3 separate regions of the Homo sapiens genome follow, and regions 2 and 3 are each reported to be linked to region 1. Evidence: microRNA targets listed by miRTarBase, many of them from high-throughput screens and not tested one by one. Region 1 holds a microRNA gene; each other region holds the end of a gene's coding sequence.

Region 1 (4,068 bases):
CACACTGAGACTGTGTAATTGCTAGAATGCCACATGCATCTTTAAAATACATACATATTATAAATTCCTTGCTACGACGTGGAGCTGCACAAAAAGACTTACTGGATATCCTAATTAATACAAAAAGATCTCTTTAAAGTGCATAACTTTAAAGGCACTGATTTCATGAAATTCCAAAGTCTTCCAGTTAAGCATTTACCTAGTTATAATTAGTTCCAAAATTCAAAACCAATACTTTGTATAAGGGTATAATTTATAAAGTGGTAGGCACACTGTGGGCAAAGACATATTTCACTCCTAAAATTTTGGCATGATCATCCCTTGGATTTGAGAACAAGCAAAGATAAAATTATATAAATATTTTCTATAGATGATTTTCCTTAATGTCTGTGGAGCCAAAGAAATACTCCAAGATGTCAGAGACTGATATCAAGAGTTTTCCAGGAGGAAACTGAAACAGGCAGTTGCAGCCACTATATCCATCGAAGACAACAGCTGCACAGAATCCTTGGAATCAATTGATTTACATCTATGTGTCTAATGTGCCCCAAGAGAGTCACTGTGTCTTCAAATCACAAATTACTTCAGTGCTGTGGATATGGGAGAAGCACAAGGTAATCATCAAGCCTTACAGTGAATTCAGTACTCCTGCCAAAAGCAACCAGAAGCATTTTGCCCTTCTGACTGGTAGAAAACTTGACTGCTCCTATGTAGAGCTCAGCATCTGAGACAACTCCTCTTCAAAGCATTGTTCCATGTGCTCTCACTATAACACATTAGCTAGGCAGGTAATGTTTTCCTTTCAGTTGAGACTTGTAGATTTTTACTCCTTTAAGAGGCCACACAAATGGTAAGTGACTGAGTAAAGACTCCACAAAGATCTCCTAACTCTTCATCCTGTGGTCTTTACACTGAACTGCACTGCCTCTAGATAAACTTATCTTTTATCATATTAGAATTTAATGGTTACAACAGTACCGTTTCCCATTATTAAAAGTAAAACTGCATAAGGGTTTCTTGTGATTTTAATTCACCAAAAAGAGCAGTGCTTGTGCATACAGAAAGAAATACACCATGAGATATTTGTAAATATTAGAGCTGGGACAAACCTTAGGAGATGAACTAATGCTGCTTTAACTCTTCTCCCCCACCTCTATCAAAGTAGTTGATGTGTAAACAAGCTTCTGGCATGAAAACCCTCCCATATATAGCTACTGCTATCAAGTGTTTATTGAGCTACTATAGATATCAGTGCCTGCCTATGTCCCTTTTTCCCTGAACGATTTTTGCATATGCTGGCCCATCTTCCAACTGTATCACCTACATCACTTTCCTTAAGGGCTTGTTCTGGTCACTGGATCCTTCTCTGCTCATATACATGGAAGGTTGTAGTGCCAGAGAATTAAGAATTGATGACTGATAGGAGTTGGTAGATTAATACCTCAGTTTCTTCTGTCTTCTAGGGAGATACCTCTGAGGTCTATCTTCCACATTGGTTCTCAGAGTTCCCCAGTAAGATTAAGCTCCAATTACTCACAATGCAAATGTGTGTGGTAATCCACTCCTTGTTGGCTTTCTTCTCTTTCTTGTCTGACTTCTCCATCTACTACCAGTATTTCCTGGGGTGACCTCTGTCTTATATTGGGCTGCTATGACAAATTACCATAGACTGCATGACTTATAAACAACAGAAATTTACTTCTCAAAGTTCTGGATACTGAGAGTCTGCGATCAGGATGCCAGCATTGTGAGGGCTCCCTTCCAAGTTGCAGAGTGTCAACTTCTCATTGTGTCCTCACATGACAGAAAGAGTTAGAGAGCCCTCTAAGTTGTCTTTTGTAAGGGCACTAATCCCATTCATGAAGACTCTACCCTCATCACCTAAATTACCTCCCAAAGTTCCTACCTTCTAATACCATCACATTGGGGATTAAGATTTCAACATATCAGTTTTTTGAAAGGGACACATCAGTCTATAACAACCTCTCAAACTACTTGCACCCAAATCCTTGTCTTGGAGTCTGCTCCTGGGGACCCAACCAAAGATATTAAGTGTTTTACTATGCATCATGTTAGAAGCTTAGTGCATTTCTGTTTTATGTTAATTAATCCTCAGGATAATCCTGCAAGCTATTTTTAATACCCATTTTAAAGATGAGAAACATGGAACTTACAGACATTATAATTTGCCTATGATTGCCCAAATAGGAGTAGAAGAGCCAAGATTCAAAAACAGGTTTATCTGACTCCAGATCTTATTTTAAACACTGAGAATCATAAGTTCTTTTTCAGTGCTGCCCCACAGGTTTATATACAAAATAAAAAATATATTGGATCACTTCGTAATCAGTGGAATTCAATGACCAATTGAAACCAATTAAGTCATATGCCCATCAACTCCAAGGGAATACTATATTCAATGAAAAACCTTAAGTGAGATGCTGTAATAAAAGCTATCACTGATTTCTGCTACCTAGTCCATGTACTGAGCACAACACTGATGATGGGATAATTGTCTGGTCTTGTTTAGGCCATCATCCTGTTATGTTTGCCCATGGACTTAGCATAATGGGATGATGGCCTAAACAAGATCAGACAATAGTGACTATTGGAAATAATTCTAAGGGTTTTCAACCAAGATGGATGGAAGAAATACGATAATTATATCCATCTTTTTATATTTCCCAAAGGAGTAGATGCATTGAAAACATTATTTAAACATATTAGTAACTGCTAAATGGTAAATTTGAGGTTAGGAAAAGTCATCGCTTGAGAAGACTACTGAAAGATCATTTTACAACTGCTTTAACCAGATTAAGCCCTTCTCCTTAGCAGTATTTACCTATAGGGGGTGTGTAATGGCAAACCAGCTCTCTAGGAGGAAGTCAGGGAGGAAACAGAACCTGATTGGTAGTGTTTGCCAATTTCTGTTGTGTAAATATTCCCACCATGGCCAAGTTCAAGCTACCAACATGATGTCATTGAATAATTTGAATGACATTGTATATAGTTGGAAGCACACAATCTGCCCTCACAAGCCAGTATGGGTCAGCTCTAGCACACCACTGTTCCCACAGGATGATGAGAGCAACAACCTAATGGCTTAAGTGCATCTCCTTTAGGTTCTAGGGAAGATAAGAGATGAGAAAAGCAGCAAACAAACAAAAAAGCAGGCAAATCTGCTCTAGGCAAGATCTGCTTTATTCTGAGAGGTAACGACTGTTCTCTCCTAGCATGGATCAGAGACAGGAGGAATTGTGCAACATAGAACTTAAGGAGGCTGGGCCCGGTGGCTCACGCCTGTAATCCCAGCACTTTGGGAGGCCAGGCAGGCGGATCACGAGGTTAGAAGTTCGAGACCATCCTAGCTAACATGGTGAAACCCAGTCTCTACTAAAAATATAAAAAATTAGAAGCCGGGAGGCGGAGGTTGCAGTGAGCCAAGATTGCGCCACTGCACTCCAGCCTGGGCGACAGAGCGAGACTCGGTCTCAAAAAAAAAAAACAAAAAAAAACAAAAACAAACAAACAAAAAAAAAAAAACAAAGAACTTAAGGATAGACAGAACAGTGTTTTTAAATTTCAGCTGCATATTACAATCCCCTAAGAATTTTCAAAAAGTCCTGATGTCCAGTCCTCACTCAAGGCCAATTAAATCAGAATCTCTGGAAGTGGTACTTAGGCATCAGTTGATATCAATGTGCAGCCAGCAGTGAGAATGAATGCTCCATAAAAACACTTCTCAAATTTGAATGTGCACATATTCAAATGTGTGATTTGTGGGTGATTTGTGAAAATTCAGACTCTGAAAATATTAAGTAAAAAATAGTGGTATTTTGTAAGTTCAAGAACATGAAAAGCTAATAAGCTAATTAACGATAGTAGAAGTAAAACCAGTGGTTGCCTCTGGGAGAGTATTGACTGAAAAGAAGAAGGAAAACCTCTTTGGTGCTGGAAATGTTCTACATTTGATGTGGGAAAAGGTAACAAAATTGACACAATAAGTAGTACACTTTAGGTTAGTACACTTTACAAATTAAGTTGTACAGATTTTTTTTTTTTTTTTGA
Region 2 (4,068 bases), not on the chromosome of region 1:
CAGAGGAGCCTGGCGGCCGCGCTCGCCCAGCACTCGGTGCCGCTGCAACTGGAGCTGCGCGCCGGCGCCGAGCGGCTGGACGCTTTGCTGGCGGACGAGGAGCGCTGTTTGAGTTGCATCCTAGCCCAGCAGGTGCGGCCGGGCTAGGGTCAGGATGGGGTAGGGCGGGGATCCGCGGTTAAGTCCCCCGTGACGGCACGTTCCATTCCCCTAGCCCGACCGGCTCCGGGATGAAGAACTGGCTGAGCTGGAGGATGCGCTGCGAAATCTGAAGTGCGGCTCGGGGGCCCGGGGTGGCGACGGGGAGGTCGCTTCGGCCCCCTTGCAGCCCCCGGTGCCCTCTCTGTCGGAGGTGAAGCCGCCGCCGCCGCCGCCACCTGCCCAGACTTTTCTGTTCCAGGGTCAGCCTGTAGGTGAGGCGCAGGTGGAGAGGCGGGGTCACCAGGAGGTTGGAGTCTGGGGAGGGGCAGGGGTCGTTGCCGGGTGGGGATGGGTGGGACCGGCGCTGGGGGTCCCCGCCCTCACCCCGTTTCCCCACTCCCTCTGCAGTGAATCGGCCGCTGAGCCTGAAGGACCAACAGACGTTCGCGCGCTCTGTGGGTCTCAAATGGCGCAAGGTGGGGCGCTCACTGCAGCGAGGCTGCCGGGCGCTGCGGGACCCGGCGCTGGACTCGCTGGCCTACGAGTACGAGCGCGAGGGACTGTACGAGCAGGCCTTCCAGCTGCTGCGGCGCTTCGTGCAGGCCGAGGGCCGCCGCGCCACGCTGCAGCGCCTGGTGGAGGCACTCGAGGAGAACGAGCTCACCAGCCTGGCAGAGGACTTGCTGGGCCTGACCGATCCCAATGGCGGCCTGGCCTAGACCAGGGGTGCAGCCAGCTTTTGGAGAACCTGGATGGCCTTAGGGTTCCTTCTGCGGCTATTGCTGAACCCCTGTCCATCCACGGGACCCTGAAACTCCACTTGGCCTATCTGCTGGACCTGCTGGGGCAGAGTTGATTGCCTTCCCCAGGAGCCAGACCACTGGGGGTGCATCATTGGGGATTCTGCCTCAGGTACTTTGATAGAGTGTGGGGTGGGGGGGACCTGCTTTGGAGATCAGCCTCACCTTCTCCCATCCCAGAAGCGGGGCTTACAGCCAGCCCTTACAGTTTCACTCATGAAGCACCTTGATCTTTGGTGTCCTGGACTTCATCCTGGGTGCTGCAGATACTGCAGTGAAGTAAAACAGGAATCAATCTTGCCTGCCCCCAGCTCACACTCAGCGTGGGACCCCGAATGTTAAGCAATGATAATAAAGTATAACACGGATTTTGATGTGAGAAATACAAGTAGTAGTGGCTTACACCTGTAATCCCAACAATTTGGGAGACAGAGATAGGAGGATTGCTTGAGCTCAGGAGTTTGAGACCAGCCTGGGTAGTCCCAGCCACTTAGGAGGCTGAGGTGGGAGGATCCCTGGAGCATGGAAGGTTGAGGCTGCAGTGAGATGTCACTGAGCTACTGCACTCCAGCCTGGGTGACAGAGTGAGACCCTGTCTCAAAAAAAAAAAAAAAAAAAGAAAGAAAAAAAAAGAGAAGTTGTGGAGGATGGAGGAAGGGGCCTAACCTGGGCAGGGGACAGGGGGTAGGCTTCCTGGAGGAGATGAGTGTGAGTAGGCATAGGGGTGGGCTATCGAGAGAAGGGCAGTGTTCGGGGCACAGTCTCAGGCAAGGGCTTGAGGAAGGCTTGTGGGTTTTTCAATGAGGCCAGTAGGAAGCCTTTGAAGAGTTTCGGGAGTTAAGACTGGGAGGTGGTTGTTTTTTTTTTTTTTTTAATTTTAATTTTTTTTCAGATGGAGCTTCACTCTTATTTCCCAGGCTGTAGTGTAATGGCACGTTTTTGGCTCACTGCAACCTCCACCTCCTGGGTTCAAGCAATTCTCCTGTTTCAGCCTCCCAAGTAGCTGGGATTACAGGCGCCCACCACCATGCCCAGCTAATTTTGTATTTTTAGTAGAGATGGGGTTTCTCCATGTTGGTCAGGCTGGTCTCAAACTCCTGACCTCAGGTGATCCACCCACCTTGGTCTCCCAAAGTGCTGGGATTACAGGCATGTGCCACCGCACCTGGCCAAGACTGGGAGGTTGATGAGGATGGGGGTGGGGGAAATGGTGGCCCCAGGCTGGGGCAGTAGCAGCAGAGATGGAGGGAAGGGGATGACCACCAAAGAGCTGTGTGGGTGGAAGAGTAACAGGCCTGGTGACACTGGGTGAGGAATGGCTGAGAGAGGGCCCCAAGTTTCTGCCTTTGCCAGTTGGATGGTGGGTGGGACTGCTTGCTGGGATGGGGCCCTGGGGGGAAATGAAATGCTTGCTCTGTTTGGGACAAGTTGAGCATGATGTTCCTGCAGTGCATCCGGGGAGAGAGTATGAGGGTAGTTGGGTCTGTAGTTCTGAGTTCAGGATGAGGGTTCAATCTAAAGATTGATGAATAGACAGGTGGGGAGTGGGTGGGGTGGCCCCAGGGGATGTCCTGAAGGACACCAACCAGAATGGGAACAGCCAAAGAGGAAGGAGGAAAACCAGGAGATTTGGAAACCAGGGGATTACCCACCCACTATAATGGAGCGGGTAGTCAAGACCGAGGAGTGTCTGTTGGACTCAGTTAAAAGGAGCTTACCAGTCAGGGGTCTTTCTGAGTCATGGTGGAGGCAGCCCGAAGCTTTATCACAGGAGGGAATGGAAGGTGAGGCCGCGGAGAAAGCTGGAGCAGAGGACTCCTGATTACTTTGTGACCAAAAAGAGTAAGGCTCAGGGTGGAGATTTGGCTTTTTTTTTTTTTTTTTTTTTTGGAGAGAGTCTCACTCTGTTGCCAGGTTGGAGTGCAGTGGCACGATCTCGGCTCATTGCAGCCTTCGTCTCCCGGGTTCAAGTGATTTTCCTGCCTCAGCCTCCCAAGTACCTGGGATTACAGGCACGTGCCACCATACCTGGCTAATTTTTGTATTTTTAATAGAGACAGGGTTTCTCCATGTTGGCCAGGCTGGTCTCAAACTCCTGGCCTCAAGTGATCCACCTGCCTTGGCCTCCCAAAGTGTTGGGATTACAGGAGTAAGCCACCACGACTGGCCTTTTTTTTTTTTTGAGACAGTCTCGCTCTGTTGCCCAGGATGGAGTGCAGTGGTGTGTTCTTGGCTCACTGCAACCTCCACCTTCCAGGTTCAAGCAATTCTCCTGCCTCAGCCCTCTAAGTAGCTGGGATTACAGGTGCCCACCACCATGTCTAGCTAATTTTTGTATTTTTAGTAGAGATGGGGGTTTCACCACGTTGGCCAGGCTGGTCTTGACTTCCTGACCTCAAGTGATCCACTCACCTCAGCCTCCCAAAGTGTTGAGGTTACAGGCATAAGCCACCACACCCAGCCAGAGAGGTGGCTTTTTAAGATTGAACATTGGTGGGAAGAAGCCGTCAGGAGCAGATATAGCCCTTGGACAGAGGATGGGGCTGGGTTCTTAAGAGACCAGTAGAGGCTGTCTATTCCAGGCTCCACCACATGGGCTGGGACCAAGAAAGAGAGAGCTGGCAGCTGAGCTGCGCAAGGACTTAGCTCTCCATTGCAGAGCACCTCTGTCCACCTGCATCCCAGAGCAATCCTTTAGCCAAGGCCTCCGCCAGGAGTCTTCCCAAGCTGTCCCCATCCTTGCCAGCCCTGTCTGACCTGCAGCTGCACAGGCCTGATCATTTCTACCTGCAGTAGGCTATGCTGGGGACCAGGGGACTCAGAACTGCACCTGGCTTGGGCTCAGGTCCATTAGCCCCCGGGGAGACAGGCTGAAGTGCTTGCCTGTGAAATTAAAGCAGACTGGGTTGGCCCCCTGTTCTGTATCCCAGTGGATGAATGAGCGGGGCAAGGACAGATAAAATAATCCTGGCCTGAATTTCAGAAGACCTGGGGGCAGAGCTTTCTGGCCTTTGGATCCTGGGCAAGTCACTTAACTCCCCGAAGAGCCCCCCAGTGTCCCCATCTGGGCATGAATGAGAGCTGCTGGCAGAGTTGCCCTGAGGATTGGGTGGGCTGCCTTGTTTGT
Region 3 (4,068 bases), not on the chromosome of region 1:
CGACCAATCTAAAAATCAGATAGTGTTATACTGAACATCATTCTGATATAATGAGTAGCCTCTGGCTGAAACAAAATTCCACCACCAAGGCCATCAACCAGGTTAGTACTGTTTTTCCTGGGGTCTATGTAAAACTCTCCTTTTCTCTGCAAATGCTGCTTGGCTGTGAACAGCATGGATTTACCTGCACCAATGTGGCACACACCTAGCAACTTTCTCAAGCATTCTAAAGATATCCCCAGAGCTAACAAATATTGACATATGTCACAGCACCTTTCTCAAGAACAGTCCAAATCAGCAGTGCACATTCACACACACAGGAATGCTGGGGATATGCTTATACCTGCACCACTTAGTTACAACAAGGGGAAATAAGAGTAACTAATGAACTTAATAGCTTCACAAGAAAAATGTTTTATAGTCATATACTTGACCCTATCAGGGAAAAGCCACCTAAAAGCATGTGTAGCTGGTTACAAAGTGCATCAAGGGAGAGAATGGCTGGCTCTGAATAAACCCACAGTCACTTCTGAACATAAAGTACACATTCTAATGACAGAGATTTGGTAATATTATTTTCACAAACCAAACAGTACAAATTTCAAGTTATTTCACAAATCAGATGATCAAATAAAAATGGACATGAATATGCTTAGTAAATTAGCATATACATTTTTTTTAAAGGTGCTATTGTAAAATAACCTACATGACAAAATTTGGCAAAGAGTAAACAAAATCATTAACAATAAACCAAAAAACATGTAAAACTTAAGAAAACTCCCAAAGAATTAAAAAAGAACACATATTTCATAGGATTCAGAAATTATATATCATTTTTAAGTGTGCATTAAGCAACTTTATACTGCACTTTAACAGTCTGAGAAATTTGACATTTCATTTCTATAAATATACATGAGTGGAGACATTTTATAAGTACATATGACTGACAGCAATATTTGGACAACATAAAAGTATCCTGTAGATATGTGTTGCTGCCATAAATCTGGGATGCAGGATTAAAAATGGAGTAAATAAGGCATGACAATGCTTTGCACGATTTATTGTGAGTGCAACTTAAAAACCCAGCAACCAAATTTACCCATCAAGTAGCAGGACTATAAGGGACTATTGTTTACTTGGATGCTGGAAATGCTGAAGAAAAGAAAAACCACAGCCACAGATTGGTATTTTAGAAACAGTCAATCCATACTATTTTAAGAAAAAAATGGATGATTTATTATATAAAATTAAGATTGGCAGAATACAGAAAATTATTTCTTTTACCTTTACATATTTATTGTTAAGTACCAAGCAAAGTGTAACAATTAGAAGAACTCATTACAAACTACCAAAATGTATTCATTTGGTGAAATTATTCAAGTCACAAATGCTTAGTAAATAAATGTACTTCAAAATACGTGAAGTGTAAAACAAGTATGAAAACAGTGATCTTAAACAATGATTCCTTTCACAAAAACTAACCAACAAACAAGAAGCACAAGAAAAAGGTTGTCAGGTTAGACAGAAAAAAATAAATCAAATGTATTGTTGGTTGGGATTGTTAAACTAAAATCATTAAACGAAAACCAGCAACTAGATTCAAAAGAGAGAAAAAAAACCGAAATGAGTAATTAGGATTCAAAAAGAATAAGGGTATTACAATACTATATCTGTTTTCCTACTAATAGCAAGAAATGAGGATTTAGATGCCAATTATGTCCTGTAGACCCAGGTGCTCTCAAAGTATTTGCACTGGTCTTCTAGGTATGGACATATAAATGAACTTTACTGTTACTCAAAGGTGAGAAAACTTACCCATTATAAAGGAAAGGAAAACAATTATACCTGATAGAGCAAAAAGATCACACATTAAAATGATCAAATTCATCTCTAGCATAAGACTAGAATAATCTGCTTCCAAAGAATTCCTTTGTACTTTAGTAGATGAGGGCAAAGCTTTCACCGTAATGAAAAGGCAAATGGGAGGTCTCTGATAAGTTGGAATCATCATAGCAAAAAAAGAGATACCTACCAGAAAATTTGCATTAATATCTATAACCTCATTTGTAAAAAAAAATCATTAAGTTTATAAACTATTTTAAAAATAAAACGAATACATATGTAATATGAATCATATGCCAAATTATATTCTATAGTCATAAGTGCTATTAATAAATACATTTGATTCATGCTACAAGAGAAAGAATTGAGACAATTTCACATTTCAGAATTCCTGAGTCTTATCAGAGAAAAACAAGTACTGAAAAAACAAACACAATAAACCTACTTAAAGTAGGGCAAATAACAAAATTTGGGCATATTTATAGTTTTAAAGCTGAAGACTATGGGAACAATATATATGTACTTCATGAAATTATAAACATGTTTTTAAAGCTTGGTTTTTAAAAAAGGCGTTTTGATCAAACAAGGCCACCTGAGTGACATCTTCAATGATGGTAAGCCCACCATTTTAAAGGAATAACATCTTTATTTAAAAGCCTAATTATTAATATAAAAAGGAAAAGAGTTTATTTTAACAAAATGTTTTAGTAAGATTGCAATGGGACAGCCCTTTGATGAAAAATCTAAGGAGGGTAAAGCCAATGTAACTGAATTAGAACAAGAGTTCCAATTTTGAGCTACCATCCACCAAATAATTTCCCTTTTGCTTTGCATATTACACAGTGAAAATAAACAGTTATATTAAGAGCACTTCAGTCCCACAAGGTAGGATTTAAGCTTTGTGAATAGGTGTAAATGGCCCTGTAACAATATGATGCCTGCAAAAATACATTCAACTGAAAATTAATGTCTGTTCTTTAACTAGTAAGGAAACGGGAAGCTAAGTGGTCCCACTTAAACAATAAAACAAAACAAAACAAAAACCACTGTTTATCCTTTCTGGAAAGACTACCAAAGCAAAGAACATCCAATAATATTATAAATTTAAAACTGCATACTTTTACTCATCTTTACAAGTAGGAAAGATGCATACAAACTACTCATGGGCTTTATAAATAAAGACACTAAGCAGAAATAATATTTGGGTTATTTCTCTGTTCGTAAATACACAGAAATAAAACAATTAAAAAACACTAAAGTGCAGACCTATAGGCCAATACAGGCATGATAAAGAGGTGCAGCCAAATTTGCATCTACATTTACACTTACATACCCAGAAAATGATTCTTGCTTTAAAAAAAAAAAATTGTGCAATTTAAAAACTAGTCAGTTTTGTTTGTGCTGTAATACAATTAGAACTTGTCTCTGCCCACTAGTGAAGTGACTGCTAGACCTTAGATAGCACACTAGGCTCTTGACAATCACGTATCTCATTAGAATCATACAACATTGATTCCACCTCCAGAAAATGTTAGGGTCCTCTTGTTGTAGAATGAAGAGCCACTGGTATTTGGTTGATTGCCTTTAACCAGAGAAGATTTCAGTTCCATTTCACAAGCTACAATAGCTGCATTCAATTCCACTTGAGCTCGATGAACTACATAAAACATGAGGCCTATACTTATAATAATCTGTGAATAAAAATAAAACATTACAGTTATCAATATTTTATACAAAAAAAAGAAATAAATCCAATAAATATTTGGCTTAGAAATGCTTCAAACAGGGTGCTTCTCAAAGATGGTAGGTAAAGGGTTATACATTTTTAAATAGTTTACACACAGTTATTGTTTATTCTTTCCTTTGCTGCTTCTCCTGGTAGTGGAGGACCAAAGTCTACAGGTAACCATGACATGGTATTAGGAAAACACACATTCCTTTTGGTTCACTTGATACAAGCCAAACCTGTCTCTTTGTACCAAAAAGCTTTCTTCAAGGAATAAAAAATGTCTACAATAGAGGTAACAGCTGGCTAAACTTTGTTGGTATAATTAATGTAGTATTATACCTTTGCATGACTATAAATGTCCATAGGTATTTCTAAGCCCACTTAGTGAGAAGCACTACTATTTGCAATGAACTACCTGGTGAAGACAAAATTAAAAGTATTACAGACCACTTAAAAAAATGAAATGCCAATAAACTTCCAAAGAATTAACAAGAGAT

The links. The annotated mature microRNA hsa-miR-5704 reads UUAGGCCAUCAUCCCAUUAUGC and lies in region 1 at 2,564-2,585, opposite strand. An mRNA with a match to its seed (bases 2 to 7 or 8) in the 3' UTR can be bound and repressed. Matches are read on the target gene's strand: a 7mer-m8 pairs with bases 2 to 8, a 7mer-A1 pairs with bases 2 to 7 and ends in A, and an 8mer does both.
Region 2: the mRNA of TRADD is a reported target of hsa-miR-5704. Seed matches in the 3' UTR shown: 7mer-m8 at 963-969.
Region 3: miRTarBase lists TMEM64 as a target of hsa-miR-5704. Seed matches in the 3' UTR shown: 7mer-m8 at 3,112-3,118.

Annotation. Positions count from the first base shown.
Region 1 is chr3:131,983,338-131,987,405 of GRCh38, forward strand. MIR5704 (microRNA 5704) reads right to left here and starts at 2,594; the gene lies at 2,518-2,594. The region is part of intron 1 of CPNE4 (copine 4); the gene reads right to left.
Region 2 is chr16:67,151,441-67,155,508 of GRCh38, reverse strand. It overlaps TRADD (TNFRSF1A associated via death domain), which reads left to right. Exons shown (of 5, transcript NM_003789.4): 3 at 1-132; 4 at 215-413; 5 at 550-1,324. The coding sequence ends at 860. Among named protein-coding and RNA genes, the nearest start is that of B3GNT9, 2.5 kb to the right of the region's middle. RefSeq lists a silencer at 1-59.
Region 3 is chr8:90,622,330-90,626,397 of GRCh38, forward strand. It overlaps TMEM64 (transmembrane protein 64), which reads right to left. Exons shown (of 3, transcript NM_001008495.4): 3 at 1-3,533. The coding sequence ends at 3,342. Among named protein-coding and RNA genes, the nearest start is that of LINC01030, 18 kb to the left of the region's middle.